Regions from separate parts of the Homo sapiens genome. Here regions 1 and 2 are each linked to region 3. Evidence: fine-mapped expression QTL. A gene starts in region 3. Each other region holds a variant in brackets. All regions are shown on one strand. Distances are from middle to middle.

What was found. PIP is the estimated chance that this variant, and not a neighbour inherited with it, causes the effect. A credible set is the group of variants that fine-mapping cannot tell apart.
Region 1: its variant is the best candidate, but not a certain one, in a credible set for the expression of CRIM1 in monocytes (BLUEPRINT, PIP 0.58).
Region 2: its variant is the best candidate, but not a certain one, in a credible set for the expression of CRIM1 in whole blood (INTERVAL, PIP 0.72).

What each region holds. Positions count from the first base shown.
Region 1 is chr2:36,467,693-36,478,513 of GRCh38, reverse strand. It overlaps CRIM1 (cysteine rich transmembrane BMP regulator 1), which reads right to left. Exons shown (of 17, transcript NM_016441.3): 6 at 1,443-1,625. Among named protein-coding and RNA genes, the nearest start is that of CRIM1, 120 kb to the right of the region's middle. RefSeq lists a silencer at 1,794-2,088. The variant G/C (reference allele first, on the strand shown) is at 5,077.
Region 2 is chr2:36,263,624-36,274,444 of GRCh38, reverse strand. No RefSeq gene overlaps it. Among named protein-coding and RNA genes, the nearest start is that of CRIM1-DT, 87 kb to the left of the region's middle. RefSeq lists enhancers at 2,637-3,261, 3,262-3,887. The variant A/G (reference allele first, on the strand shown) is at 4,696.
Region 3 is chr2:36,349,167-36,359,987 of GRCh38, reverse strand. CRIM1 (cysteine rich transmembrane BMP regulator 1) reads right to left here and starts at 4,210. Exons shown (of 17, transcript NM_016441.3): 1 at 3,365-4,210. The coding sequence starts at 3,695. It overlaps CRIM1-DT (CRIM1 divergent transcript), which reads left to right and starts at 4,418. Exons shown (of 2, transcript NR_037631.1): 1 at 4,418-4,900; 2 at 5,007-5,239.

The sequences.
Region 1 (10,821 bases), 120 kb before region 3:
TTCCTGTGTAAAAAGTATTAGAATACATATTTTTCTACGTTGAGCCTGGATCTGAATTCCAGGAAGTGAGACATAACTGGATCCATGCCCAGACAACTCAGTATGATGACTACACAGAGGTTCGTATCTACATTTTTACAGCATCAACTGCTGCACAGTTTCAGAACTATTGCAGACTGGGGGCAGGTAGGGAACAAAACAATTAGAAAGGTTAAAAATTTGAAGTAATTCTTTTTAATTGTCAACATCACCTAAAAAATAAACTACTTTTCTCCTATGTTGGGTAAAATAACCTCTAGTAGGGAAAAGAACTCACTGTTATGAACTATGTTAGGAATGCAATTTTTATACTTTAAACATTTTCAGATCTTCAATATTATGTTGTAAATATTGCTCAAATATCAAAAGGAGAAAATTTTATGAAAATGAGGAAGTATGGAAAGTGGCATGACACTGTGCCCTCCCACTTTGTGTGCAGAGATCAGGCATAAGATTAACACATGCGACTTCAGATTGAAGATCTGGGGCCTGGTTAGGACAGGAAGGCTCACAAGACCTTCCTTTCTGGGGAAACAGTGTTGTGTTGTCAGAAGAACACTATAGACACAGTCAGGCACGGGGTTATTGTTACTGGCTGCAGTGTAAAGTGACTTTACAGGCAAGTGACTTTTCTCTTCTGAACTTCAACATCCTAATCTGTAAAATGTGTGGGTTGCAGGGAGTGATATTCAGAGCAACTGTTTTGAAATGCTTATTGTTTATGAACATCAGTGATGGGAAGATGCAGCCTGTTGAAGGAACATGAACATATTACTTCTTGGAGAGAAAAGGGGAATCCAGACAAAGCAGATTCCTGAGAGTCACACCTGACACCTGGCTGGGCCTTGAGTTGGTGTCACCAGGTGGTGACCTGATACCACGACCCCATGTGAACCACCACATATTTTCAGAGAAGCAGTAGCAGGTCCCTGATCTCCCTGGAGGGTCCTGGGTATTACGACAGTGGCAGAGTTAGTTCCTCTCTGGGCCGGCAGGCTGAGACTGTCAGGGTGAGGCCCACATTATCCTAACTGAGCAATCTGAGGTGAGGAGGTGGTGAGCTCTAATGCCAGGGTGAAGATAAAGCTTTGCCCTAGGACTTGCTGAGGAATTGCTAGAACTGCAGGGGAGGAACGGAAAACAACTCTGGGACATCTCACGTTGCCTGTGGAAAGAGGTGACCCATTGTCTACACCCAGGCATAGCTTCCCTTAGGGAAGTGTTTCCACACACTCTACCTGGCTTTAACATGCTAAAAGACAGACCATGGTGTCTTAAAAAAGGCTAAAAAAGGAACTTCAATATTCCTTTACTTTTGGATGAGACTGAATTAGGACGATTTTGATTTTAGAACTCTATACCATGTATGCTCCTGTTAATCTGTAATTAGCACCTTTTCTTACCTTCACACACTGGGCAGCACTCTCCTTCGGGCACGTAGTACCTCTCGCAGTTTATCTCACCACACTGGGCGGTGAAGCAGATGGCAACGCCCCCTTGGCATCGACAGAACCGACAGTTGTCCATTCGAAACATGTCTCCATCATAATATTCCACATTGTTAAATACGCAGGCTGGCTTTGTATCTGAAAAGAGTTAAAACAAACAAGGCATATTTGTAGTCATTTTTTAGTTGTGTCCTTTGATGTTTTTCAAACAGCCTCTAGAAAATTTCTAATAGGAGGTTATAAGTTGATGGAAATTTACTCAACTCAATGTAAGTTCATGTAACAGAAAACAATAAAGTGAAGCAAAACAAAATAAAATAAAACACACTGTTATCCAGTTTACACCAAGGAACAGAAATTCCCCCTAGGAAAATCTACACTGACTTCCTTCCATCCCAGACAAAGCTAAACTTTATGACCATGACACTCACATATCTGGTATGTGCTTTAAAGTGATTCTATTTGTTTGGTTAAATCATTGTCTACCTCAAATGAATGATCCTGCCTCCACATTAGGTTTTGTTCTGCTTCAAAAATTTTATTATGGTCTTTTTTGAAGTGGTGATGTTCTGTTCCCCCAGTGCTCTCTCTTAAATTCTTTTTCTCTGTACATGGTATAAACACGTATAATTTTAATAGTGTTTGGCCTTTAACAAAATACTCTCTATATGTATCACCTCACTTAATCCCTATAATGAAGGTCTGACATAGGTATTATTATCCTGAGTTTAAAAGTGAGGAAATCCTAGGTAGTTTACTCAAAGTCACACAGCAAACGACAGAAGCCAAAACAGTAGCTCTTCAACTGAAACCTTGTGCTCCTTCCATTGTGCTTCAGGGTTATGTTCTGCTGAGGACTCATAGTCCCATATTTAGAAGTCTCATCACGATATCAATGATTTTTAAATTTTTCTCTGCCTTGAAACACTCTCCCTACATTCATTCTTTAATTTTAGTTGATTTAAAATAACTCCCACCAAGACAAGAAAACACAACTACAGATCAGTATATTATAAATGTAGACACAAAAATCTTAAAAAAAATTACTAGCAGACCACATCCAGCAACATATAAACAAAATTATACACCATGACCAAGTGAGACTTATTCCAAGAATGCAAGGTTGGTTTAACATCCAAAATATTAATGTTAATACGATATGTCACACAATAAGGAAAAAAAGCAACATGATCATTCGATAGACACAGTTTTTGGCATCTGACAGAATCTAATATTCTTTCATGATAAAAATGCTCAACCAACTAGGAATAGAACGGAACTTCCTCAACTTGATAAATGGCATCCTCAAAAGTCCTACAGCTAACCTCATACTTAATGGCAAAAGTCCAAGTGCTTTCCCCCTAAGATCAGGAACAAGACAATGAGGTGTGTTCTCACCACTTCAATTCGACATAGTAATGAAAATTCTAGCCAGAGCAATTAGGAAAAATAAATAAATTAAAAGCATCCAGATTGGAAAGGAAGAAGTAAAACTATCTCTAATTGCAGATGACATGATCTTGTATGTAAACAGTTTTAAGGGATCCACTAAAAAACTATCAGAATGTATAAACAAGTTCAACAAGGTTGCAGAGTACAATTGCAACTCCCCAAATTGTGTTTGTATACCCTAGCAATGAACAATCAGAAAATGAAGAAAACAATTCCAATCACAATAGCATCAAAAAGTATACAATACTTAGGAATAAATGTAATAACATAAGTACAAACTTGTATTTTGAAAATAACAAAACATTTTCAAAAAACTAAAAAGGCCTAAGTAAACGGGACATCCCGTGTTCATGGATTGAAAGACAACATTGTTTAAATGGAAATATTCCCCAAATTGATCTACATGTTCAATGCAATCTCTATCAAACTCCTAGCTGGCTCTTTTGTAGAAATTGATAAGCTGATCATAAAATTCATATGAAAATGCAAGGGACCCAGAATTGCCAAAACAATCTTAAAAGGGAGAACAAAGTTAGAGAACTCCTACTTCCTAATTTCAAAACATAATACAATGCTATAGTAATCAAGACTATGTGGTACTGCCACAGGGATAGATATATAGTTCAATGGAATTGAGAGTTCAGGAATAAACTATCACATTTACAGGTATTTTGACAAGATGGCCAAGACTCAGTGGGGTTCAAAGTCTTTTTTTTTTTTTTTTTTTGATATAGAGTCTCACTCTGTCACCCAGGCTGGAGTGGAGTGGCGTCATCTGAGCTCACTGCAACCTTTACCTCCTGGGTTCAAGTGATTCTCCTGCCTCAGCCTCCCAAGTATCTGGGACTACAGGTGCATGACACCATGCCCAGCTAATTTTTGTATTTTTAGTAAAGACCATGTTGGCCAGGCTGGTCTTGAACTCCTCTGACCTCAAGTGATCCAACCACCTTGGCCTCCCAAAGTGCTAGGATGACAGGTGTGAGCCACCATGCCAGGCCTGAGGTTGAAAGTCTTTTGCATTATCTACATGCAAAAGAATAAAGAAGAAAACCCTATGCCTCACACCATATACAAAAATTAACTCAAAATGAATCATAGAGTTATGATCTAAATACAACAGCTACACCTACAGTGCTCTTAGAAGGAAGCATAAGAGTTAATCTTTGTGGCCTTTGATTAGGGAGTGGTTTCTTAGATGTGACATTCAAAGCATAAGCAACAAAGGAACAAAACAGATAAACTGGACTTCATCAATTTTGGGACTTAAAAGGACACCATCAAAAAGGTAAAAAGACAACCCTACAGATTGGGAGAAAGTATTTGCAATCATATATCTGATTTAAAAAAACTGGTACCGAGAACTCCCATAATTAAACGATAAAAATAATCTAATCAAAACGGGCAAACCTTTGAACAGACACTTCTTCAAATAAGACAGAAATGGACAATAAACACATGAAAAGATGCTCGAATCATTAGTCACTCGGGGAATTCAAATCTAAGCTGCAATGAACACCATTTCACACCCACTATGATGGATATAATTAAAAAATAGTAACGAGCACTGATGAGGATGTGGAGAAACTGGAATTCTCATAGATTTTTAGTGAGGATGTAAAAGCACAGCTGCTTTGGAAAACAGTTTGTGAGTTCCTTAATTTGAGTTATCATATCATCAAGCAACTCTACTCCTAGGTATATACCCAAGAGAAATGAAAATATATACCCACAAAAAAGCACTATAAACAAATGTTCCTAGCAGCCCAAGAGCCAAGAAAGAACGAACCTAAATATCCATTAACTGATATATAAACAAAAAGTAGTATATCTATACAATAAAATATTACGTGGCCATAAAAAGAAATGAAGTTCTGATATGCAATATAACATGAATGACACTTGAAAATATTATGCTAAGTGAAAGAAGCCAGTCACAAAAGACAAGGTATTAATATTATATAACTCTACTTATATGAAACACCCATCATAGGCACGTCCATAGAGATAGAAAGTAGATTAGTGGTTGCCTAGATCTGAGAGCTTAGGGGGAAAATGGGCAGTGACTGCAATCAGTTCAGGAGTTTTCTGATGGCTTGATGAAAATGTTCTGAAACTGATTGTGTTGATGATTGCA[G/C]AACTCTGAGCATACACTGAAAACAACAGAATTGCACAACTTAAGTTGGTAAATTGCATGGTGTCTCCTAAAGCTATTTTTAAAAAAAGTACTCCCAAGCTGAAGAAAGTTCTCCTGAGGTGATGAGCCCTGCTCAATCTGCCGGTGAAAGCTGGATGATGATATCCCCATCTTTCAAGGGCTCTTCTGTCCATCCCCAAATCATTTAATATGTCCCCTTGCATGTCTAAAATACTTTCACCGCATTTGGAGGATATTTGCATTTGCATTGTACTCAAGGACAATTACTTTATATTTATTTTATAACAACCCCGCTAAGAAGACAGAACGAGTATTATTAGTACCAGTTTTTTCGATAATGAAGATGAAACTTAAAGAGATGACGTGATTTGCTTAAAGTCACATGAATGAGGCAGTGATTTTATGTGTGCACACGTACTACATGTGAATGTTTAAACTCCTTCCTTAGTGCTACATGGATACAACATTTTTTCAGAAAATTAATGTTAAAAAAGAATCATCTTACCATGGCTCAGAATTCTTCTATATACTTTTAGCTAACAAACTAATCTGAGTTGGGATTGAAAGGAATTGTGCAGCTACACTATAAGTTCCAAAAAGTATAGAAAACGGAGTACTTTTATACATTAAATTTGCAGGCTGTAGAGCGAGGCAAAATACTGTACTCTAACAAAATGAACATCCATGGAAACTAAAAAAAATAAACCAATCAATACTAATTATTTGGTTGAGTTGATCAACCACAGCTACCATCTGGGTGAAGCCACAACCCTGGTGCATGATCTGAGGAAGTGTGGAGGGCAGGTTCTGGTTATGAATAAAGCTGCTTCAAGTGGACTTGTTTTTATGGTAGGGTGTGCAGAAGCTTAAGCAGGAGGGGATGGGACTGACGAGAGAACTGTGGCACTTAGGTTTCACTAGCAAAAGCACAAGGATCAAGGGAGTGGAAGTGAGAAAGATGGAGAATCCTAAAAACACAGCCTGGAAACACAATCAATCTTTAAGGGTGAAAAAAGTCACACAACACAATGAAATCTGTTTGATGTTCAAAGAGATTTATAGAGGCTCTTAAGAAAAGTATATGATAAAAAGGCTACCTGTGGTTTTTGAGGAGCAATGACCAATTACTTCTTCACCTATCAGGGGTAGATGTGAATCTCAGAACAGTGTGGAGATTGCCACAATCTCCACAAAAGGATGATTTAAGTGGATGTGGAAAAGTGTTATGAAGAAATAATTTACTGTGTAATTTGTACTTCTCAATATGAAGCACAGAAGTGCCTTTTTAGTGATTTTTTGTATGTGTTTTGCGTCTGCAAAATTAAACTTTAAGTTTCTAAGTTCTGGGATCTTCCCTTCCTTCTTGAATATACTTCAGAACTCCTAAAAGAGAATTTTGTAATATAGACTATTAGTACATGCTACTGCCTACCAAACTACACTGATTGGTGGATGGTGATAGATACACCTCAAAGATATTGTGGGTTCAGTTCCAGACCAGCTCAAGCAAGTCACACAAACTTTTTGGCTTCCCAGTGCATTTAAAAGTTATGTTTACACTGTACTGTAGTCCATACTTGTCTAACCTGCAGCCTGCGGGCCACATGAGGCCTAGGATGGCTTTGAATGCAAACTTTCTTAAAACATTGTAAGATGGTGTGTGTGTGTGTGTGTGTGTGTGTGTGTGTGTTTAAGCTAATCAGCTATCATTAGTGTTAGTGTATTTTACATGTGGCCCAAGACAATCTTCTTCTTCCAATGTGGCCCAGGGAAGCCAAAAGATTGGACACCCCTGCTATAGTCTATTAAGTATACAATAGCATTATGTCTAAAAAACAATATACATTCCTTAATTTAAAATACTTTATTGCTAAAAACTGCTAACGATCATCTGAGCCTTCAGTAAATAGTAATCTTTCTGCTGGTGGAGGGTATTGCCTTGATGCTGATGGCTGCTGACTGATAAGGATGGTGGTTGCTGAAGGTTGGGGTGGCTGTGGCAATTTCTTTAAATAACACAATAATGAAGTTTGCCACATTGACTAACTCTTCCTTTCATGAAAGATTTCTTTGTAGCATGTGATGCTGTTTGATAGCATTTTACTTACAGTAGAACTTGTTTCAAAACTGGAGTCAATCCTCTAAAACCCTGCTGTTGCTTTATCAACTAAATTTATGTAATAGTCTAAATCCCTGGTTGTCGTTTTATCTGGTGAAGATGTTGTCACAGCATCCTCACCAGGAGTAGATTCTATCTCAAGAAACTACTTTCTTTGCTCATCGATAAGAAGAAACTCCTCATCCTTTCCAGTTTTATCATGAGATTGCAGCAATTCAGTCACATTCTGCAGGTTCCACATTTAATTCTAGTTCTCTTGCTCCTTCTACTACATCTGCAGTTACTTCTTCCACTGAGGTCTTCAGCTCCTCAAAGTCATTCATGAGGGTTGGAATCAACTTCTTCCAAACTCCATGTTAATATTCTGACACCTTCCCCTGAATCACCTGTGTTCTTAATGGCATCTAGAATGGTGAGTGAATCCTTTGCAGAAGGTTTTCAATTGATTTAGTTCTGATCCATCAGAGGAATGACTATCTACAGCAGCTAATCTTATGAAATGTTTTTCTTAATTAACAAGACTTGAAAGTTGAAATGACTCCTTGGTCCATGGGCTGCAGAATGGATGTTGTGTTAGGCACGAAAACAACACTAATCTTGTACACCTCCATCAGAGCTCTTGGGAGACCAGGTGCATTGTCAATGAGCAGTAATATTTTGGAAGAAATCTCTTTTTCTGAGTAGTAGGTCTCAATGGTGGGCTTAAAATAATCAATAAACCATGCTGTCATCCAGGCTTTGTTGTTCCATTTATAAAGCACAGGCAGAGTAGATTTAGCATAATTCTTAACAGCCGTGGGGTTTAGCTTAAAGTTATCAGCTGCATTAGCCCCTAATAAGAATCAGCCTATTCTTTGAAGCCAGGCATTGACTGCTTCTCTCTTGTTATGAAAGTCCCAGGTGGCATCTTCTTTCCATAGAAGGCTGCTTCCTCTACACTGAATATCTGTTGTTTAGTGTAGCCACCTTCATCACTTTTCATAGCTAAATCTTCTAGATAACTCTCTGCAGCTTCGACATGCAGCTTGTCCCATCCCTCCACCAAAACAAATTAAAACCAAAGTGAAAAGAGAAGGACTATTCATGGAGGATGTTCTCTCCATCTGTTCATTCAGGCTAGTGTTTTCAAAACTCAGGAGTTCTTGAGTTCTGTGTGTTTTTAAATCCTTAAGTTTTCCCTTTATTAATTATACTGATGACATGTTCTTAAAGTTGTGAATGTGGACTAGCCTCAATAAATATCTGGTCTTGCTAACTATACTCTCATAATTAATGGCTCGGTATTAAATACTATAAGACTAAAAATATGTTTGCTAGTTTCAATTGGCTTATTCCACAGGGAGAAGAGGGGAAGTGTGTGTGTGTGCTGGAGGACACCAAGCATATCCTATTTCAGGAAAAGGGGAAGAGAACAACCCTTAGAAAGGATTACAACAATGTGTATCACTCTTTAACAAAATTAGCTTAACAAGGCCCCAGGAACACGAGGGGTGCTCAATAAACACATACTGAGTGGAGTATTGCTCTCAAAGTGCCAGAATATCTCCATTATTCTATCAGTAGAAGACATTACGTCCTTAGAAACATTATGAGCATAATTGCTATATAGACAGTGGGTTCTTAATGTTTTCTGTACTAGTGTTTTTTTTTGAAAATTAACAGCCTGCAGGTCTGAATTTTCTAGGCCAAAATTTTACATGAGGAGCAAGCTGATGCTGGGTACGGCTCCCCTTTAAATGGTGATTTCACATGTTACTGTCTTAGAGAAAATTCTGTCAGGGCCAACATAAGATTACTTCCAGTTTTTATTAGCCTTTCGTATATGCCTGAATAAAACAGGAACTAATTACTGGGTGGGCAACATGACCTTCATCCAGGCTCCTCACTGTTAGTGCTGCATTTTAATACTGCTGTGAGAAGCAGAGTGCTACAGGGACAGTGCTCCAAAACAGAAGTATTTCAAATGGCACAAAACAGGCTAAAAACACACGCTAAGTTGTATTCAGATCCCCTTTCTCTGAACTTACTTCATAACCCCCTGAAGTTGCTTTTGGCTAGTTGTGCCATACACAAGTAATGCTCCCATCCCCACCCCATCCACCCACCACTCTTGGCACCACTGGGAAGAGGGTACTCTTCCTCTTTTGTGCTGATGACTTGTTTAGAGCTGTGAATGGGGGCTAGCCTCAATATATATCTGGCCCTGCTAACTATGCTGTCAGAACAAATGGTTCAGTATTAAATACCGTAAGGCTAAAAATATTTCTGGTAGTTTCAACTGGCTTCTATCCAATAACAATACTATAGACTAATTCATTTACTCACTTGGGGAACGTTTTATAAGTAGGTCATACAGACAGAGTCAGCTTTTGGCTACGACTTTCCAACCAAGATATTCCATTTTATCTAGATGTTTGTGTATATACGTTGGACAAATGCTCGTATCTAAGAAACCAAATAATCACTTGCACACTCTACACCTAGGATTTCAAACCCAAATGCCTCCAGGAACGAGAGGTGGGCCATGTGTAAGACAGCAGGGGGTACTGTGTTAAGTGGAGAGCATCCACCCATCTAACAGTAGAGGCCATTGTCCAGCTCCAGCTGACGGCTGATGGGACATTTGTTTGTGGGCAGGAGCAGACATACAGTGGGTTCTTGACGAAGGTGGAGGGCTGTTACAACACTGCTTTGGAGGTCATATTTCTAGGTGATGATTTTGATGACTTCTAAGTTCACATAAAAGAAACATAATCATACCACCTGTTCCTTTGGTTTCTAAATAACAAGGATCTTGTTCAGCCAAAGCCTCATAAGTTCTCCTTTCGGCGCTTGTCAGAGAATGCAGTTACAAACTGTCATGAACTGGTCTGCAACTCTCCCATCCCTCCGCCACAACAAAATAAAATCAAACTACAAAAACAAAGTAATATTTATGGAGGATGCTCTCTCTGCATCTACTCATCAGGCTAGTGTTTTCAAAACTCACGAGTTTTCGAGTTCTGTGTATTTTAAAATTGTATGTTTTCACTTTAAAGTTGATTTTAAAAAGAAAAAAACATAAGCATATGGATCACATGGATGGCAGCATAGGAAGTGAGTGCGGCAGTGCATAATCCATTTCTGCATGTGGGGTCAGTCATGTTAACATTCTACCCACAGTCTTCTGAACTGGGGTCTTTGGATCTACCTCACCATGGTTGGGCAGTTTGCAAAATTGAGAAACAATGTTCCAAGCACCTACGGTCTAGCTGTGTCAATCTGACCTTTTGGAACTGAGTTGTATTTTAATATTTTGCCTTTGCTTTTTATTGAGAACAATCCCAGGAAACCAGTTTCTGCATTTGTGGTGTTAACGCAATTAAGCACATGATCAACTTCATCATTCAGTGGGATGAAATCCATTCCTTTCCATATGAAAAATCTCTATTAGAGAGACAGTTGTCCCATCCAGCAGGTTTTTTCCTCTTTGAAAATAAGAACAGCGTATTTGACCCTATCTCCTTTTTCACTTTGATGGCCAGAAAACTGGGGGCCTAATTTAACATTTAACTCCCACAACTGCATAGGCACTGATGGACTGTATACCCGTGGGTGCTTTCTGT
Region 2 (10,821 bases), 86 kb after region 3:
ATGTTTTCCAGTGGCTTGTGATTGACTGCAAAAGGGCATGAGGCAACTTTTTAGAGTGATGGAAATATTCTATATTTTAATTATGATGGTGGGGTGTTGGTTACCTGACTCTATACATTTGCTAAAACTTATTAACTGTATCCTTAAAGTGAGTGCTTTGTGTGTGTGGGCAAAGGATTCTTTAATAAACTGGACTTAAGAGCATCCTCAGATGTCTTCTCATTGCAGTTAAGATGAAATCAAAATACTTATCATTTTCTTCAGCCATTTATATATTTTTTGTTACTTGATGTAACTAAAATCATTCTCATTTCCATGCCTTTACCCCAATTCTTCTGTCTACCTGGAAATTTCTTTCTCTAAGTATTTGAATGGCTAACTATATTGATTTCAGAAGCCAATTTCTCAGAGAAACTTTTTCTGTCTTTGATGCCTAAAGTGGGTCTTCCCTCTCCTTCAAGTCAAACTGTATCTCATTATTCGGTTTTATGCACTTAGCAATACTTGAATAGTCTTACAAATGTATTTATTTGCTTCCTTGTTTATTTCTTCTCTGTCATCAGCAGTCTGCAAATTTCTGGAGGAAATGGAAACTTTCAATTGGATACACTGTTGAGTCTCCCAAGCTAAGGCCAGTGCCTGGCGTACTGCAGGCATTGAGTGAATAAATAAATGCGTAGCAGGAACTTAATAAATGTTTGTCGACTGGCTAAATGATTGAACCTGAAGCCACAATTGCAAAATACTGCCACTTCATGTTTAATTGGAATGTTATGGTACAAAGAATGTAGAACAGTGATGCTAATGGAATATGTACTTAAAATATATACATCCATCAACAGGCATTTATTAAGGGCTTTCCCTGTGAATGGCACTGAGCTATATGTGGCAGTCACTTATTTTGAAGGAAACATTCTGTCAATCATTTTCATCCAGTCGTTCAAACTTTTCAAACGAATAGTTTTTAAGGAAAAGTCTTCTTAGTTCTAACTTCTGCAAGAAACCTGTGGAAAGTGTGGAAGTAAGTTATTTTAGTCATTTTTTTTCTTGTTCTTAAACTTGTTGTTAGAAGTGTTTGAAATCTTTGCTAGATTTGAGAAATTCTGAAACCAAATGTCGTTTTCTCTATCAAATTACAATTGGCATAGTAAAAATACACTATTTTGGGCAAATAGGTAATTCTAAAAAATGGTAATGTTGCCAACTCTATTTCCAGGAACTGAAAAATGTGGCCCTGTGCAAGTAACTGGGCAGTAAGTAATCACTCCACTGGCATATAACCAGGTGATTCTTTCGATATATGCTTATTAGAATACATCACAAATTAAATCTGAAGACATATTTTTATGTGTAAACAAATTTGAAGCCAGAGTAGAATGTTCTATGGGAACATAGCTGCATGAATAGTACTTAAAGAGAGTAGTTAAATCACCAGCAGAATCTTCCCTCTTGACACACACACATGTACACACAGTAGAAAACATAACTGTTTTTTTTTTTTTTGAGATGGGATCTTGTTCTGTTGCCCAGGCTGGAGTGCAGTGGTGCGATCATGGCTCACTGCAGCCTTGACCTTCTGGGCTTAAGTGATTCTCCCTCCTCAACCTCCTGAGCATGTGGGACTAGAGGCGTGTGCCACCATACCAGGCTAATTTTTTTTTTTTTGTTATATTTTTTGTAAAGCTGGTGTTTCGCCATGTTGGCCAGGCTGGTCTCAAACTCCTGAGCTCCAGCGATCCGCCCGCCTCGGCCTCCCAAAGTGCTAAGATTACAGGAGTGAGCAACCGTGCCTGGCTGAACTCTTCTTTATGATAGCTGTGGTCTAGTATTTACTCTTGGGCCTTATATTACTTCTTTATTTTTGTTTTATTTTATTTCATTTTTGATGCGCATATTAAGCCAAACAGATCAAGAAGAGAAAAGTGTCTTCCAAGAGTTCAGGGTTGCAATGCACTGAGCCCAAATGACTCATTGCAGGAACATCACTCCCTTCTGGAAGGAGACAGTGAGGTGGAAGCAGGTGAGGGCAAAGTGTAGAGGTGCAAGGGGTTCAGTGATGCTGACTGTCTGGCATTTTTGCTCCAGATCTTCTAACTCCCCTTCTCAAAAGTGAATAACACATACTTAGTGACAGTGACAGTCAAACGTTTCTGATAATTGTGTCTTCTAAAGTAGCACCAGTTCAAAGGAAGTAACAGTAATTGAGCAACTTCACTTATCAAATGATGGTATGTCAATTAGAGGCTTAAAAGTGTCAAATCTGAATCTTCAGTGTTTTGCTGTAATTCACATTATGCTGTTTACTATAGAGTCTAGGATTTAGCTTTATTTAGTATCATTTGAAGAGAAACAAGCGCATTATTTTATTTAATAATTAACATGATTATTTTGAAGTTGATTGACCTGTATAATTTCCTGTTCCTTCTTTCTTCAATGATGAAATAGCATTTACTACGTAGTTTATATTGAACCCTCTACACAGGGTATTTTAAAGATTCTGATGTCTAATGTTCTTGGATCTAAAAATTGTAATAAAACAGTGGTGCTTTTGCTATGCCTTCCAATAATCATCACTGGCCTCCTGGACTCTTACAATTATCAAGACAAAGGCTGAGAAAAATAGTGAAAACCCCTGCCATTATTTTCAATGGCATCCCAGAACAGGCACTGGTTTGTTAGGCCACCTCTATGGAGTAGGATTTACTTACTCATTTTGCTTCTTGACTTTGGAGATGTAACTGTAACTCTGGATTTACAAAGAAAACTTAGGCATATTTGAAAGTAACTGAAGTGACACTAGAGAATGAGAACCATGAACAAAATCCTATTCATTTGTCTCAAAAGAAGAATAACTATAACAACAGGATAAAGAACATAATAAAAACAGGTACTACTTGCTGTCCACTTACCAGAGTATGGGCTTTCAAATAACTGCATGTAATTTTCACAGCATGTGAAGTAAGCGCTACTGAGACACAGGATGGTTAGTTTCCTGTTTCCAGGATCAAATAGAAAGCACCAGAGCCAGGATCTGAGCCAACTCTCTCTGCTCAGTGCACTCAGTCCACCACACTACAATACCTCCACTTCAGGATACTTGTATATGATGAACAATAATATCTTGTAACTAATATTTTTGTTTGTTTTCTGGCTGGGCTCAATTTGTGTCTTTGTTTTAGCTGGCCCTGGTCTAGAATAATCTTCAGTATGTCTTAAACCATCCTTGTCTTGTGCTGTCTTTCATGGGGCTATACCCACCTCTAGATCCAGGCCCTTATTACTAATCACAAAAAAGAAAAAAAAGATCAGGCCATTGGTATACGGTAGCTTTAAATCTACATTATAAATATACTGCTCACTAACCTGTCGAAAGGATGCAGCTCTTCTGTGATTTCTTTTTGTTATCTGCTGGTCTCTAGTATTGATAATTTACCACCCTGGGAGTGACTTCCTTTTGGGTTTTCAGATCTTGAAGCTCTGTTTCTGAGCTCTCTGCATGCTGTCTTTGTGTTCTTCATGATCGGCATTCTGCCTGCCTAGCGGGCTGGGGAGGCTTTTTTGATGGAACAGGAACTCCTAGGTTGGGTCAGAGCTGAAAGCGAATGATTGCCATTGCTCCCCTTGAGAAATGCAGTTAAAATCCTTTTCTGGGTATAGCAGCTCTTGTTTCTGTACTTGAATCATTTTATGTCCACTGGTTGTATGAGGTATACAATGAATGCTGATTTTTTAAAAATTATGAACAATCCAAACTGATTGTCTACAATTTTTCAATGAAAAGTCCCTCTTTGACTAAATCTTTCTGCGTTTTCCCTCATATTTAACAAAAAATTAAAAACTAAAAGCCCTTAAGTTTATAATGAAAATATATATCTAAGACATCATCAGAATAATCGAGATTAAATAGAAGCTGCTACAGTGTATTATATTTTACATTTCTGAAAGTCAGATCTCCTGAAAGGCATTTTTCATACATTTAATCAGATGTTTTACCCATCATAATTCAATTTAACAAATATTTTGGACTATCTGCTATCTTCTTTGTTCTGAGTTGAAAACTGGTATATGTCAAATCAGTATAAAATCATTTCCCCACTCAAGAAATTTATAATCAAATTAGAATATACTAACATACAGGTGTAAGTATGTGTGTTTAAGTATGAAACAATCAGATAAAAATCAGGACAATATATGTTTTTGTTAAATTAGCGTATCTAGACAATAAGTACAATAGGAATTCACAATATTGATATCACTTAAGATAGTTTCTTCAAGGTACTAGCCATTTTTCTAAGTTTTTCATCTCAGCGGTGAGGCTTGACTCAGTTTGGAAAAAAAAATCCTCAACAAAACAATTTTAAACTTATGGCTCTTAGGTATTTGCTATTATTGCTTTTCTTTCCATGTAATAAAGGGGCAATGTGTACCTGTATCCTCTTCTTACTCTGGAGTTACTGAGCCACTTTTTTTTTTTCCTGCAGTGTCTTCGTGCCAGTTGCATCTCATTTCTTATTTTGTTTTTCCTGACTGCATTCCACAAGGTTGACCTAAAGTCAAGTTATTTGGTTTCCTGGGAAAAATAGTATCTTTCTTACCCTTGTCACTTGGTTCTCCAGCTTCAGGTTTAAATTTTAATTGACTAATATTTGTATAGTTCCATTATGTTCCCATTTAAGGATAGCATTAGGTACCAGT[A/G]TCTCTTTTCTTCAGAATATTTTTTACACATAATAATTCTAGATTTATAAGTTGCCAACATTAGTGTAATATATTTCTTGAGAAAAGACGTGGGGAAAGTTGACACAAATCTGCAAATATAATATTCAGAATGTGGACTATAATAAAAACTGAAACTGCATCCTTAGCTGAAAATTATTACTTTTGTGACAAAGTCACAGAACTCCATCTCATGCTATATTTAATGCTTTTGTGAAGAGTAAACTTTGGGGAAAAAAGAATCTGAAAGTGCACCTAGCTGGAATAATGAAAAAGGAGCATCGTATATCATGAATCAATATAAGTTTATGTTTGAGGAAAGCAAAATGACCAGCACGGACAATGAAATGTTTCAAGCACTATAAAATGTATTGAGTTCCAGAAACCAGACAATTTTGTGTAAAATGCTCTCCAGATTCATTTCCCCATGATAATAAACAGTAGAAAAAATGTGCCAAAATAAAGAAAAAATGTTTTGAGAAGCATATTAAATCAGAGAAATGATACTGTCATAATTGATTTTATAAAGACACTCAGAAAAGTAAACTTGATATATCTAGCATCAAGCTTAAAATGGCACATCCAGCTATCAGTGGTCAATGAGAAACAACTGAAAAACTGCCTCACGAAGTTTGGAAAAAGATCCCCAAATGAAACTCCTAAAAATAAACCCTGCAATCACACTGGCATATGTGATCAGTATGAGATTTCATATTGTGCACCCCTGTTTACTCTGAGAATGTGCTTCTTAATGGTTCATGTATACATCATGGCTCTGCTCAAAGTCACTCCTGCAAGAAGCCCAGAGGCTTCTATCTGGAGGCTTGATCTTTTAATCTAATTTAGATTTTTTTGTCTTGACATTTTTAACTCATATATTGATATTTTTTATTTTCTTTCCCGGAAGTCATTTTAAATCTTTGTAGAATAAGAGAAGTATTTATGAATACATTTAAACATACACAAATACACATTTTAATCAACCTGAGGAGGGTGATATGTGGACTATTGCTTTATAGTCTAAATGGTCAGAGAGATAGATGTACACCATTCAAGTTTTGCTTTATCTAGTAAAATAACTTTCTAATTGAGAATTACAAGTACAAAAACAACAAATAATTACACATGAAGTATTCATTTAGAATATTATTCGAAATAAAAAACAGATTAACAGACTATTATAAATAAGTCTATGATTTAAGGTAATAATACTAAGATTAGGTTAAATGATTTATTTGCATCTTTTGCCTTTGTTTGGGAGGTGGCTCCTCCAAATATTAGTTTTGTGATGTTAGGCAGTTTATTTAATGTAAGCCTCATTTTTTCTTATCTGAAAAATTGGGAAATTAATTATACCTACCTCATAGGATTGTTTTGAGGATTAAATAAGTTAATACTTTTAAAGGTTGGAACAGTAAGCAAATATAGACATACCTCATTTTTGCTTTATTGAGCTTCACAGATACTGCTTTTTATTTTTTTAATTGAAGGTTTGTAGCAACCCTGCATTGAGCAAGTCTATTGGCACAATTTTTCTAACAGCGTGCACTCACTTCATGTCCCTGTATCACATTTTGGTAATTCTTGCAATATTTCAATTTCATTATTATCATGTATTTTATGGTGATTTGTGATCAGTGATTTTCTTCTATTCTGTGGGTTGTTTTTTCACTTTGTTGATAGTGTTCTTCGAAGCACAAATGTTTTAAATCTTAATGAGGTGCAAATTATCTATTTTTCATTTGCTATTTAGGTTTTGCTGTTATACCTAGGAGTCTATTGTGAAACCTGAGGTCATAAAGATTTACTTTTATGTCTTCTAAGAGTTTTACAGTTTAGCTCCTGTAATTAGGTCTTTGATCTAATTTGAGTTAATTTTTATATATGGTATGAGTTAGGGGTCTAACTTATTATTTTCCATGTTGCTATCCAGTTGTGTCAGCACCATTTGTTGAAAAAACTGTTCTTTTGCCCAGTGAATTGTCTTGGTAGCCTTGTGAAAAAAAATCAATAAATGTGAGGATTTATTTCTGGACTCTAAATTCCATTGCTTATTCTTATATCAACACCATTTTATCTTGATTACTATAGTTTAGTAGTAATCCTTCTAGTACTCCCATTATGTATGTGTTGATGACTTAATATCTCATACTTTTCTGAAGCTGTTTTCATTTCTTCTTTTTTCCTTGAATTGCATAATTTTTATCAATCTATCTTCAAGGTTTCTAATTCTTTCTTCCGCCAGTTCAAATATACTATTGAGCCTCTCTCATAAATTTTTCATTTCAGTTGTGTTTTTCAACTCCAGGATTCTGACTTCCCCCCTCCCCTCTTCCTCTTCCTCCTCCTTCCTAGTAATTGTTACATCTTTATTGACATTCTTTATTTGATGTGACCTTGTGATTACACATTTCTTTACTTGTTTAATTGTGGTTTCTTTTAGTTCTTTGAAGTTATTCACAATGGCTTCTTTTAAGACTTTATCTGTTAAACTTAACATCTGGTTCCTCTCAACAGGCAGTTTCTTTTGCCTGATTTTTTCCCAGTGTGTAGGTCACGTTTTCCTGTTTCTTTGCATGTCTCATATTTTTTTTTTTTTGCTGAATCTGGACATTTTATATAATATAGCAACTCAGCACTGGTCACCCCCTTATGGGGCTTGTTATTGTTCTTTTGTTTCTTTTTTTTAAATTTAACTGACTGACTGTATTACTATAGTGGCATCTATTCTTCCCATGCAGTCCAAAGCCTTTCATGTTGCTCTTCAGGCTTGGGTGTGGTCATAGCCACTCTGGGATGACAGTAATTTTGGTAGTTGATTCATGTTTTCAACAATGCCCTGGGTATAAACTGTGTCACAGACTTACCCAATCAAATTTGATCACCTTTAAAGGGATAGTTTCTGAATTCAATGTTTGAAGGTTGTTGCTGTTGTTGTTATTGTTTGTCACAAGAGGGCTCCTCCCAGCTGTCTCTTTCCTTGGTTCTCTTAGGCAAACTAGCTAGCTGACAGCGTAGCCTGTATGTACAATGCGTCTGCCAGTCTCCTCCCAGTTGCCTTTCACCACAACTTCCACTGTTTCTTAGGGTGCTTTTAGGCCTGAATTTTTCCACACTCTCTTGATAATGAAGACAGTTTTTTTGTTGATGGGAAAGAGGCTAGGGGATATGTGTTTTTCTGCCTGCTCTCTCCCCTTAGGTAAAATCTCTGGAGTCGGGGGACAATGGTGTGCTTCTCTTTGAGTCACACTCTCACTTTAGGAGCTGAGCACTCATTGGAGGCAGACAGAGGTCTCAAGTCTTCTTGGTTTGCCTCTCCCTGTGTATGAACTCTACCTCTGAACCAGGGTAAGGGTGATTAGTGGCTCAGTATTTTCAGTGGCATCTAACACAATATAGAGCCTCTCTCCTATAAGTAGGGACTGGACAGAAGAAGGGAGCATGCACCTCTTGGCTATACTCACCTTGAACTTCAAATGAACAACAGGTAGCTGGGGAAATGATGAGAAACGCTGACACCCTGCCTTTCCTGCGAACAGAGCCCTCTGACTGGGAGCTGGGTAGGAGAGAAAACTCTGTGTTCTCAGCTGTCCCAGCCTGGAGAGAAGTTTCCATCTCACAGAGCTCGGGGGAGGAGAGGGCGGAAAGAAAGGGAAGAATAGGTCTTGGTTGAAATAACCGCGGGCTCTTGCTGTTCTTACCACATTTTAGTAGATTTTATTGAACAAATATTTCTTCATTTGATGTATGCCCTTAGGATCCTTTCCAGAGACTTTAAATGGTTGCTCTTTTTCCATAAATTTTTTTTTTTTTTTACCAATTTTTCTAGCATTAGGGAGGGGGGACTCCATGGAGCTTCTTAGGCTGTCATGCCAGAAACAGAACCCATGTATTTACTTTTACATGATATAATAAATACATGTGATAGAAATGATATTATAAACACATGTGGAATGAAACAACACATGTTCACCTATCTCTATGTGCTGTTTGTTTATACGATTCCCCTACATTCCCATCCCTCAGAGGGACCAAGTATTTTTTTCCTTTTTATTTTATTTTAATTGACAAATAGTAATTGTATACATTCATGAGGTATAGTGTGATGTTTTGATATGTGTATACATTATGGAATGATTAAATCAGGATAACTAACATGTCTATCTCTCAAATACTTTTTTTTGTGTGTGTGAGCATTTAAAATCTGCTCTCTTAGGAATTTTGAAATACACATTACATTATTGTTAATTATAGTCATCATGCTGTGCAATAGATTTTAAAAACACATTCTTCTGTCTAACTGACATCAAAGGGAACAAGTTTTGACATTTTATGTTTATTATTTCCTTTACCTTAAAATTATTTTATCAAATAATTATTCATGTGTAAAATATATATTTAATATTAATTATTTTTGAAATTACATGAAGACTTGCTTCAATGTAGCCTTCTTAGACATAATTTTTTACTCATACTATCAAGATTTTTCTACATTGCACTATGTGGCTGTAATTAATTCATTTTTACTTTTACATAGCATTTCATAGGGTGAATTGATCATATTTACAAGTGTATTCTCCTTTTGATGGGTACTGGGTTGTTCTCAGTTTTTCTTTTCAATCAGTGTTTAGCCCACTTTATTATGACCTTCATCTCTAGCATTTGACTGAAATTGGTGACAGTAAGTCATTAATTATTTCTATGTTGCCAAATCAAACAGAAACTTTTAAGTTGCTGGGAGCTGAAGGCCGGTTACATTAAGTTCTCATCTTACAAGTCTACACATTACTATTCATCTAAGTTGGCCTCTTTCTCCTTGAAAAAAATCTCATTTTCTTGACTTCCATGACACTTGTCTTCTGGCTTATCTTCTGCCTCTGATGGCTTTTTTATAACCTCTCTCGTCCTTTCCATCGTCTTTACATGGCCTCTAAATGATATTCCTGAGGGCCTGATCCTGGGAATTCTTCTCTCATTTGACTTTCACTGATTTAAGGTGGAAAAGTATCACCTTGAGGTACTTATTAAAATACAGATTCTAGGTTCCTGGCCCCAAGAGATTCTAATATAGTAGGTATTGGATTAAACACAAGAGTTTGCACTTTTAATGAGTACCCATCGCTGAGTGAATTTAGGTAGTTCTTTTAGGTAGTTCTCAGAATTTATTCTGCTGCCTCTTGTCCTGCAAAAAATTCTTTGCTTTGCTCAATTTGTGAAGTCTTTTAGCAGTTTTACAAAATGTTTATTTTTTGCAGAAATCACTGGCATGAATAACACACTTAGAAACTCCTGCATTTAAAATTGCATTTAAACAAAGCATAATAGCTGTCAAACAGACTATACTCTTTTCTATACCTTGGCAATAGTACCAACAGAGGGGCTGGCTGTGTGGCAGATCCATCCTGGTAACCACCAGGAGTGATGGAATATCTTTTATAGTCAGTGATGCTGGTCAGGCTAAACAACTCTTTGAAGCAAAGGGGACTCAAGAACCATAGCCACCTAATAAGGAAAAGTTGATTGATTAAAAAGGATTCCCCTGGTATTTATAGGTTTGGGCAGTGTGGTGTTGATGTGCAAGATGGTGCTAATAGATAGGCAGGGGTCAACAAATTAGGATCTATAGGCCATTTTAAGCATGTTTGTCTTTATGTAGCTTGGTATAAGATGCCACTGGAGAGTTTAAACATAAGGTGGAGGCAGAAGGTCCCATGATTTTAGATATACATTGGAAAAGATCGCTCTGGTTGCATGTGTGAATAAAATAAGTATGGGGTTTAATTCTGCTTATTGGTTTAAGGAGAATAATTATGAGGTTATTGTTGAAATCAGGTAGGGATGTATGTATCTGGAATCAGAGTAGTAGCATTCGAGGTGGAATTTGATTCCAGAGATAATTATTATTTACCATCAACTGGGCTTGTAATTAGACTGGATATAGTAAACGATGGAAAAATATATTTGAGGTGCTTTCAGGTTCCTGACTAATACCGTTAGATGAATAGAGGCGCTATTGACTGAGGAGTGGAAAGATATCAGAAGAAGGCCTGTTGGACCTCTGATCTTATCAACAGTGGTGTTGTTAGAGCTGAAAGATAATGACCTACA
Region 3 (10,821 bases):
CACACTTGTTTCTCTGGCTTCTAGGTGATTTTCCTGGAGGCAGGCAGCCTGGCCAAGAAAACAGGCCAGTTAGGATGCTGCAAAGAGCAACAGGAGGTCTTAGCAGACGAATGGAAAGAGGAAAAAGACCTGCACTCTCCTAAGTTCCAAAAAGCACTTTCTAGACTGACAGAAAGTAGGAAAAACTTTTAGGTATCAGGCTCCATGCTCATTTTTTCAAATGCACTTACCACCCCCAGCCCCCACCACAAAAGGAATAATTCAATTAGAATTTATTTAATAACAATCTAAACAATGCGGAAAAGAAATCCAAGTGCACATCTCACATGGTGCACAGGACACAACTCATCACATTATTTAATCATTCAGAAAATATTTTTTTTCCTTCAGCATTCTTTCTATGGATAGGATTGTTCTTCCGTTTGTTCAATGTACTTTTACTGAGAGCCAACTAGACCAGCATGCCTTAAAAACCTAAGGCTGTGAGCCACAAGCTGAAAGGGGCCCATTTCTGCCCATGATTTATCTAACTCATTTTGTGAACTGCAGTTAAAAACGTAATTTTTTTCCCCTACAAAGCCAGTATGAGAGTAAACACTGCTAAAAATTACTGCAAGTTGGCAAACAGAGAATATAATTTGTATTTAAATTATGTCATCGAAAGCAGGGAGATTAGTCATGATAATATTTCTATAACATGCAATATGTTTTTACAACGTAGCCAATTAAATAAGTTTTCAAGAGTTTTCATTAACAGATACAACCAGTAGGGGTCATTTTAGTGCAAAAATTGCAGCAAAAGAGACTTCAACATGAATAAAATATATTGATTCCTATTCATGTTAGTTATGATAACCATGCTTCACCACGTGAATTTCTGAATAAAAATGGAAACTGAGGGAAACACTGGCCATTCCGAAATTTCTTGTAAACTCACAGAAAAACAAGAGATAATCAATACCTTCTAGGTAACTGCTGACATCTGAAGGCTCCTCTAATTCTTTTTTTAAAAATGGCAGGCGGGGGGCGGTTGGGGTATCACTTATCCCATGCTTTCCATAAATCTTGTCGTTAAGTGAAAACACTGAAATTGTAAACACACGATTGAAAATATCTGTCTAAATCCAACCATTATATCATGCCAGGTAACACTGTCCTTACTTTGGTTTCACAGATTTAGAATGCAAGTTGACTGCTGTTTTCAGTATTTTTTTTTTTAAAGGAAGTGCCCTGGACACACAATATTGATAGTTGAAAACAGGCCTGTAAAATAAAAAGTGTTTCTAGAGAAACTAATTGAGATATAATCATGTCAACAAACCCTTCCAAGCATTTCAAAGCGAATACCAAGCACACAGGGTGTTGCCAGAAAAAAGGAAGCTATGAGGGATCACATCATTTCAGAGGAATGAAAGGCTCACGAAACTGCCAAAATAACTCTATACTGTGACATGGGATATTGCTGCCACAACACTCGATTACTGTAAATGTTCCCTGAGCACTTCCTTCACCAGAAACAGACTAAGAAGAAACAAAACAAGGGTTAGAATCTTCAGAACCTGCAAAAGTCCTTCTTGGAACACAGCAGTTTCCACTGCATTTAACTGTGTTTCATGTCGCCTGTTCTTTTCAGATTTACGAGAGGCCGGATTAAGTTATACACTTGAAGCGGCAGGGTTCAAAGATGCATCTTTTAGTCTAGGTCATTCAGAATTCCCAAAGTCAAAACACATACAATGGTATCAGAAGTTAATCTCATGGCCATTTTTCTTGAGGTAAGGCATAAAAACAAGTTATAAAAGGGGACAATACCAGGTGAGAGGCTTTTTTGTACTTCAGGCAAATGATCTCTTCTAACCCAATGTCTTACGTGTGCAGCAAAGCAAGAGCAAGTCCCTCCCCTCTGAGAAGAGTTCCCTTCACTCATCACTGCCCACTAGCTTCCAAACCAGAAAACCCTCCCCTATTTTCCTGAACTGTCCAAACCCCAAACTATTCAGGTATAAATAAGTACCTATGTGTGTGTCTGTGCGTATTTAGAGAGAATCACAGCACTGAAGCCTTTTAATAGGTCCATTGTTATCCTTAAGGCTGTCACCTCCTTTTTCAGTATCCCAGCATACTAAACAAACACACACAAAGATGCTTCGGAATAAACCGTTCCCTGGACGGTGCTGGCTGTGAGTAGTGAGGAAGGCACGCCGGGCAGAGGGCGCCTGTCCCTCCTCGCCGCCTCCCCAGAAACGAGGCTGCTGCGTGCGCTCTGCTCACTCGCCAGGATGCCCCCGGAACAGCATCATCAGCCCAACGTCAGCCAGAGCAGGGATCCCACTTTTAACTGATGCTTACCGAACCGTGCCCCCGTTAGCCACATCAAAATAACTCACTGCCTCGCTCTAGACCCCAAACCAGACCAGGCACCCTGAAGGCCGACGCAAGCGGGCAGGGATTAAAGCCAACACGCACTAACATTGGCTCCCCAACGAGAAAGACTCCACTAATCTAATCTGTTTCTCCCACCGTCAATCTCGACACCGCGGAGCACAATGCGTGCTGGAGAAGCCAGCAGAACAATCCCCGCTGTCAAACAAACAAAAAGGAGGAACCGGCAACACGACAGGAAACACGCGGGTATCTGATATTAAAAAGCAGCCACTAATAGCAACAACTTTTTACTCCCAGGTGCAACCCCCACCCCCCTTTCCTTTCAGGAGAGAAAGCCTTTGACCGTTTACAATGGGCAAATAAATGAGTAACCACCGTGTGTAACTTCCCCTGGGCTGACATATTCCGCGGCTGAAACTGATTTATCTGCGGAGGAGGAGGAAGGGGTGAAGGAAGAGCTCAAGGAAAAAATAATAAGAGTCACTCGGGGAGTGCGAGCTGGAGACACGTCTCCTCCGCCAACAGAAAAAGGACTTTCGCGGCCGGCGTGCGGCTCACGGTGCCACACTGCGCCAGTGCGGGGAGGGCGGTAGGGCCGGGCTCCCCGAGGGGCTCGCGCGCGGCAGAATCTGCAGTGCCCCCCGCCCGCGGCGCCCCCACCTCGGGGAGCAAGGCCGGGCCACCCAGTCCCAGCAGGAACGGCCACACGTGTGCGCGTCTGCGCGGGGACAGGGGCGATCCTCCACTCGCTCGCCCCCACCCACCATACCCAACCTCGCCCGCGACTGCCTAAGCGTCGGGGGGAACAAGGAGAGGGAACGCAGGGCCGCGGGGGCACTCTCCTGGGGGCGGCGGCCGCCCCTCTTCCCGCAGAGCCCTCTTTCCTCCAGAAAGTCTCGCCCAAACTTTGTTCGGCACAACCAGCGCCGAGGGGGCGGCGCAGGCCAGGTGGGAGGGGGCCCGCAGCGGGCGGCCGTACCTTCGCAAACGCCCGCTTCGTACTCGGTGAGGGAGTCGCCATTGAGCGGGGGGCGGATGACACAACGCAGCCCCCGGTCGCAGGTTCCGTAAATCCCGAAGGTGCCGCCGCAGCTCTCGTTCCTCTGGCTGGCGCACGTGTAGCAGCAGCCGCAGACGCCCTGCACGATGCTCCCCGGGCAGTTCCTGGGCTCCTCGCACTTGGACTCGTCACAGGGCAGGCAGACCAGCGCCCGGGTGCCGGAGCGCGCCAGCAGCAGCAGCAGCCCCAGCAGCGAGACCAGGAGGTGCCCGCAGCCGGCCAACCCCCTGTCCCCCGCCACCAAGTACATCCTCCTGCGCCGCCGCCGCCTCCTCCTCGCAGCCGGGCCGGGAGCGGGGCGGGCGCCCTCCCCTGCGCGGGGCACACGCGCCGCCGCCGCCGCACCAGCAGCCCGCGGTCCTCACCGCCCCTCTCGGGGCCCCCGGGGCGCGCCTCCCCTCGCGGGGCGAGGCCCCCGCCCCTTCTGCGGGCCGCGCCGACCCCGAGCCCACGAGCCTTGGCGCCGGCGGCAGCTTCCCCTCCTCCTCCTCCTCCTCCTCCCGGGAGGGAGGGGGAAAAAAGAAAAAAGTTTCCTCCCGGCAGCTCCGGTTCAACCCAAACTTCTGGCGCGGCGGCGGCGGTGGCTGCTGCGCTCGGCTCCAGCCCGGGCCGGCGGCGCCTCCTCCCTCTCCTCCTCCGAGTCGGCCGGCCCCGCAGCGGCGCAGCCTCCGGGCCGGTCCCCGCCTCCCGAGCTGCCGAGTGGGCGCGGTGGCGCAGCACAAGATCCGCGGCGTCCGCTCCGCGCGCCCCGCTCGCCTCACTCCTGCGCCGCTCCTCCGGGCGCTTGTTTATGGCTGGAGCCTCAGCCGCTCGGGCTGCGCCCTCCCCCATCCTACCTCCTCCCCCAGACCTTCCCCCCACCCCCACGCGCCGCGCGCCGCTCATTGGCTGCCCCCCCTCCCCGGCCCGGCCGGCCCCCTCCGCCTCCCCCTCCCCCTCTCGGGCGGCCGGGCCCTTCCTCCCTCCCTCACACGCCTCCACCTCTTCCCGATCTCCTCCTCCCCGAGCCCGGCGCACCGAGCCGGCCGTGCCACCGAGCTGCGGCTCTGGCCCCGGCGCCGCGGGTGCGCTGCGGATGGGCTTGGGGCGCACCCAGCGAGCAGCGAGAGTCGCGGTGTCCCGGGCGCTCGCTGGCACCGTGGCCGCAGCGGCCGGCCTGGGAGCCAGGAGGGCGAGGCGGCTGCACCTTCGGGGCCAGATTGGAGTTCGAAGAGTGGCGGGTACCCCAGAAGCTCGGGGCCGGGGCGATGGCTGCAGCCTCGGGAGGGTATCGCCGGATCGAACTCCGGGAAAGGGAAGCAAAGGCATGGAACCTCCGCACACTGGATGAGAATCCATCTTCCATTCGAGCTGGGAATAGACTTTGTGAAAGATATTATGTAATGGAGTCTCGGGAACCCTGAGACCTCTCCAGCGAAGCTGAAGTGAATTAATTAAGTGCTTTAAACGGTCTTGGTAAATATTCCGCGGGAGCTGGGGAGGACCGTTGGGATGGCTGTAGCTTGAGTTGAATTTTAACTGTCCTCATTCTGGGTTTTGTCGCTCTGCTTTCTGTGCCAAGGTGCTGTGTTACGGGAGAGAGTGACTGGAAAGTAACAAAGCTGAATCTTTCTCCCTGGAGTAAGGCCGAAGACTGGATTACTACACGCCTAGACGTGACACTACACCCATAGATCTCATGCATCATTAATGCCATATGACATTGCCATTTTCTTTCTCAGTTCACGGACAAAAGTGGTGGGTTTTCATTGTCTTCACTGATTGTCAATGCATTAATAAAGAAGATGTGTGGTACATAGTCTTTGTGATAAATCAGGTAAAGAAGCAACGGAAGTGATGCAAAATGCACGGTGTGGAGATGGTTTCTCTTCAGTGGTTGTCAGAAAAGGTTTTCGTAATGATGGCTCTGTCATTGATGGGATATGAAGTAGTAATCCGCTCCGTAGTGACCTACCATTCACAAGATGGGTACCAGGTGAATAACATTAATTAATTGACAAAAAGTGACTGTGGTCAATGGGGGAAAAAATCGATCCCGTGGCAGGTGTGACGTGGGAATGGCTGGCCCACCCTCTGATCCAAGATGGTCTGGCTGCAGGAAGGTGGCAGCCAAGTGGATTCTGAAAATCGTGACTAATGAACCGAAAGTTAATAGCTGGCAGTGCAAGGAAAGAGGAAACAAAGCTACCTTTGAAATGTTATGTTTGTGGAACAAATTCATACTTACGATAAATATTTTAGTTTAACCACTCTGTCTAATCCTGAACCCAAAAGCCAGAGTTACCAGTGGACTATTCCCCCATGATGGGCATCAGCAAACTAAACATTTCTCCTATCATATTTCTTTGTCCAAGGAGAGGAAGAGGCTCATTAATTATCATTGATTATTATAGGGCCATGAGGAAGATGTTCAACCGTGGAAAAGGGGAGAGAGCATTGCATTTTCTAGACGGGTTTAAAGAGTTGTTGCAATGAAATGATTCCTGTAGTTGGGTGGGAAGTCCGATTAGATGATCTCCAAAGGCCCTCATACCCTGTGGGTCCATAATAAGTGTTAAGTGGCAAAATCGTTTAAAATATGCTAGGTTTTCTATTAGAAAAACCGAAGAGACTGGGCGTGGTGGCTCATGCCTATAATCCCAGCACTTTGGGAGGCCAAGGTGGGCAGATCACTTGAGGTAAGGAATTCGAGACCAGCCTGGCCAACATGGTGAAACATGGTGAAACCCTGTCTCTATCAAAAATACAAAAATTAGCCGGGTGTGGTAGCGCATGCCTGTAATCCCAGCTACTCAGGAGGCTGAGGCAGGAGAATCACTTGAACCCAGGAGGTGAAGGTTGCAGTGAGCCGAGATTGCGTCATTGCACTCCAGCCTGGGCGACAGAGCAAGACTCTGTCTCAAAAACAAACAAACAAAAAAACTGAAGAAAAATAAAACACACATTGTTAAACATTGTTCTTTCTTGTCACCGAACAAGGCACCAGCACTTCAGTGTGGGATTTGCCAACAAACTGTCATCATTGCTCTGTGTTAAAAGGTCCCTCCCACTCTTGCAGAGGAGGTTATCTGTATTTCTGTTCAAATGCAAGTATAAAGACATTAAAATGTAGCAGATAACATTGTAGGACCTGCAGGAAAAGCCAAGGTCAGGTGATGAGAAAAAGGCAGAAGTGAGAAAGCTACTGTGGTTAGGAAAGAAGGAGGTAATAAGCATTGTCAAAGTTTAGCTTCTATTTATTTTTAAGGGGATATATTAAGGATTAAGGAAAGCTACAGATGAGCACAGGCAAAGGATAATTTGGAGATGACTATTCATTGTTCCTGGGACTTCAGAAGTAGAACCACCTGGAAGGTAGATGGACAGATACAACATGAGAAAGGTTGACTTCTCACAGGAATTCAAGTCAGGTTTAGAAAGGACTAGGGAGATTCTTTAAGATGAAGATGATTGTATCAGCTCAAAAAGAAAAAAAAAATCAAGTTACATTACACATGCCCTTTGGCATAAAATTAATAGTCATAGAAGCAATAGAGAAAATAGGATTCCTTGAAGCCAGTGACTAGTGGCGAATGAGAAACCTGCAAGGTCCTGGCAGCTTTTCTGAAACCAGTGTGTGAATCAGGAGCTCAGTTATGAAACAGCTCTTTCTTCTCTGGGATCCAGGAGGGATGATAATGAGGTAGTGAGAAGCTGAGGCAATGATACTGAGGCTCGAATACAAAAGTATTTTCTTATCTTCAAAGACCAGACTATGGTTACAGAAAGAGTTTGGGTGAGCCCAACATGATGACAATCAGGTGTCACGGGTGAAAGTGGACTAGGAAGAATTACCCTGAAATTGAATGGACCCTGAAAGTCATGAACGAATGTTAAGAATTAGAGCCACACATGAAAGGCCTCCCTTTCTGAGAAGCCTTCTTGAGCTTCTTTATCTGTTCTACAGCATTTGTAAGTACCTCTGCTTGTAGCATTTATCATGTTACATTATAGTTATTTAAATAACTCTGAACCCAATTAGCTTGTCAGCTTATTGGAGAGGGCAGGATTTATAAAAATGCATGCATGAATGAGTTGAAAAAGGGAGAGTGAAGAATTACAGTCAAAATGATATTTGAATATTATTGTCTGCAGCCCTTCTCTCTTGGTTTTAGTAAATACCTCAAAATCAGTACTTGAAAGGGATGGTATGGGCAGGAGGGAGTCATCGAAGTTTGGGGTGGGGGTGGTGGGGGGGTGGGGGAGGGGTTGGGGAACAGGTCTGCAACGAACCAGGAATTACGAAGTATTTCTGATGGAGGTCTAGAAGAAGAGATCGTCTGCCCTCTATTGGCCATCCTGGGGATTAATAAATTGTTGAAAATGTCGAAAATCAAAGTGCCCATTTGTTGGCCTAAGCAGAAAGTGGAAATGAGAGGGCAATAGACAGAATGTTAGTATTAGACCCCGCCTTTCCGATACAGTGTCTAGTCCACCTATAGTCACACTCTGTATTTTCTCTTCCTGAAATGAAAAGAAAAATGTAGAAGTTGCCTTTGAGTTTGGCTCACATACTCTTGGAATTGAGTTGCACTTTGTATTTTCTCTTCCTGAAATGAAAAGAAGAATGTAGAAGTTGCCTTTGAGTTTGACTCACATACTCTTGGAATTGAGTTGCACAAGAGAAGAAACCTCATTGTGTTATGAAAACGTTGCATACATATTAGAAAGTGGTACGAATAAACCAGGGTAGCAGGTCTGGCCCGTTTTACCCTCTTAGGCCATCTCTCTGGTCTCCTCAGCTGGGATCACCTATATATGGGTTCTCACTTAATCTAGGCTTGGCACTGCAGTGATATAGACAGACCCTAGTTTGGAGGCTCAACCATCTGGATGTTGGACTCTTAATCTGAAATTGAACTCTATTATCACCACGTAATACCTTATTTTTGCTAAGTGGGTTCTTATTTACTCTGCCTGTGAATGATAGCTGCTGCAGAACTACCACAAGGTTTACAAGACATCTGCACAGAACACAGGTTCTCTTTGATGTTTGGCCTAGGATCCTGACACACACACACACACACACACACTCTCTCTCTCTCTCTCTCTCTCTCTCTCTGTGTACAAGTTTAAACAAGGTATTTATCCTTTCTGAATCTGTCTTCTCTGTAAAACAGAGACAAGAATACCAACCATACAGGGTATCGTGTGGATAAAATGATTGCTCTCCTTTTCTATTGTTATTTTTAGAGTCCTTCTAATTGAGTGTCTCCTCAAGTTTTATGCTTGAGCTGGAATCCCTGCTCTCTGTTATCTTAGCATCCATTGCTGTGCAACATCTGCTGGATCAGATATTTGCTTTTTTTTTTTTCTTTCTTAGGATCTTCTGTTGGCCTTGTTTTGACAGTCTGTCTCATCTTGGGGTTTTAGCCTCTGTGATATTTTCTCAGACTCATTTTGGTCTCTGACTTATTTTAAAGAGCAGTAATTGGTAATGATAATAGTAATAGCTGACACTAATAAAGATCTTATTAATTGCTAGTCAACATGCTAAGTGCTTCATATAGGTTATTTTAAGTAATCTACGGAAGAGCGCTGTAAGACCAATGGTTTCTATTATCTCTAGTGCCTTACGTTGTCTTCATTTTTTACAGGTGAGGAATCTGAGTTATAGGAGGTTGTGTGGCTTGTCAAGGTCTCAGAGCTATGTGTATGGATATTAAGCTTAGAACTCAGTCCTATTCTGCCTTAAGGGCCTGTGTGTTTAACTACCTCAATTCAGTAAGTTGGGTAATGGTGAGCTGCTTTTCTTTTCAGTTTTGTTGTTTTTTGTGGACCTCATTTAAAATTGCTAACATCTATGACAATATCTTGTCTTCTTTGAGAAGTTTAAATACTGATCAGCGTTTTCTCAAAATGGAAATAAGATCATTGCTTTCCTAACTACTGAATAACAAATATTTATGTAACGTTTGCCATGTGCATATTTTTTAATTACCTTACAATATTACCACATTTAATCCTCCATAAAAGCTGATGAGGTAGGTACTGCATTTTACAGGTACATTTACACCTATTTAAAAGGAAAAATTGGGGTGGGTGCGGTGGCTCATGCCTGCAATCTCAGCACTTTGGGAGGCCAAACTGGGTGGATCGCTGGAGCCCAGGAGTTTGAGACCAGCTTAGGCAACATAAGGAGAACCCATATCTACAAAATAATAATAATAATGAACTAGCCAGGCATGGTGGGATGTGCCTGTATTCAGGAGGCTAAGGTGGCAGGATTGCATGAGCTTGTGAAGTTGAGGCTGAGGTGAGCCGAAATTACACCACTGCCTTCCAGGCTGGGTGACAGAGTGACACACTGTCTCTTACTTTTCCAGTAAAGGAAAAATTGGAATTCAAACCTAGGCAGTATGGGGACAGAATCCACTCTATGCAATATTACTTCTAATGTATGTTTTTTAACAAATACATGCTCACTGGGGGAAAAAAGAGAAAAGACAGACAAGTAAAAAAGAAAAAAAGAAGAAAGAAAAACATCACCTATAATGGTTTTATCTCAGGTGAGATAAAACCACTGATAACATTTGTGACACATCCTTGAAGGTTTATTTTCCCCATACAGTATAAAATATAAAATGGGATATGTATCTACCTCAAAATTGGCTTTAACTTTCACATATACATGGCATATTGATCTTTAGAATCAATAACTGCATCCTTTTTACCATTGATTGTTATTCCACTGAATGTACATATTGCATTATATTTAACTGATTCCATATTAACATAAGTTTAGGGGTTTTGTGTGCTTTACATTTTCACTATTATAAACAAAGCTGCAATATATTTCCTTTAAGCCAAATCTTCAAACACTTGTCCAATTATTTTCCTTGGCAAATACCTAAAGTGAAATTATTGTTTGTGGGTCAAAAGTTATGCCCACTTTGACATGCATGGCCAGATTGCCTTCCAGAAACTTATTCACGCAAATTTCCTCAAACACTTAATACAAGTTCCCATCTCTCCAGTGTAGAGGCCCTTCAGGTTAAAAACCATTTCTTCTTGCTTTAAAAGCACCTTACATTGTAAAGCTTTAAAATTTTTTTTAACATAAAAAATTCCTTTCACATTTATTATTTCATTCCATCCTTTAAAATGTTCAACATTAGGAGAGTTTAGCTGTGGATCACCAAATGTTTTAACCTTACAAATTGCCAAATCATGTAACCTGGCAAATTATTTGCTGTGTGGTTTTTAAAGAAAGTGTTATGTACTCAATTAAAAATTTCTCCCAGGAAGGAGTGTTTTTTATAAAACTGAACTAATAAAAGGGAATAAATTATCGAGACCCTCCACAGGTTAAGGAAATTTATCCTGCGCTTACAGAC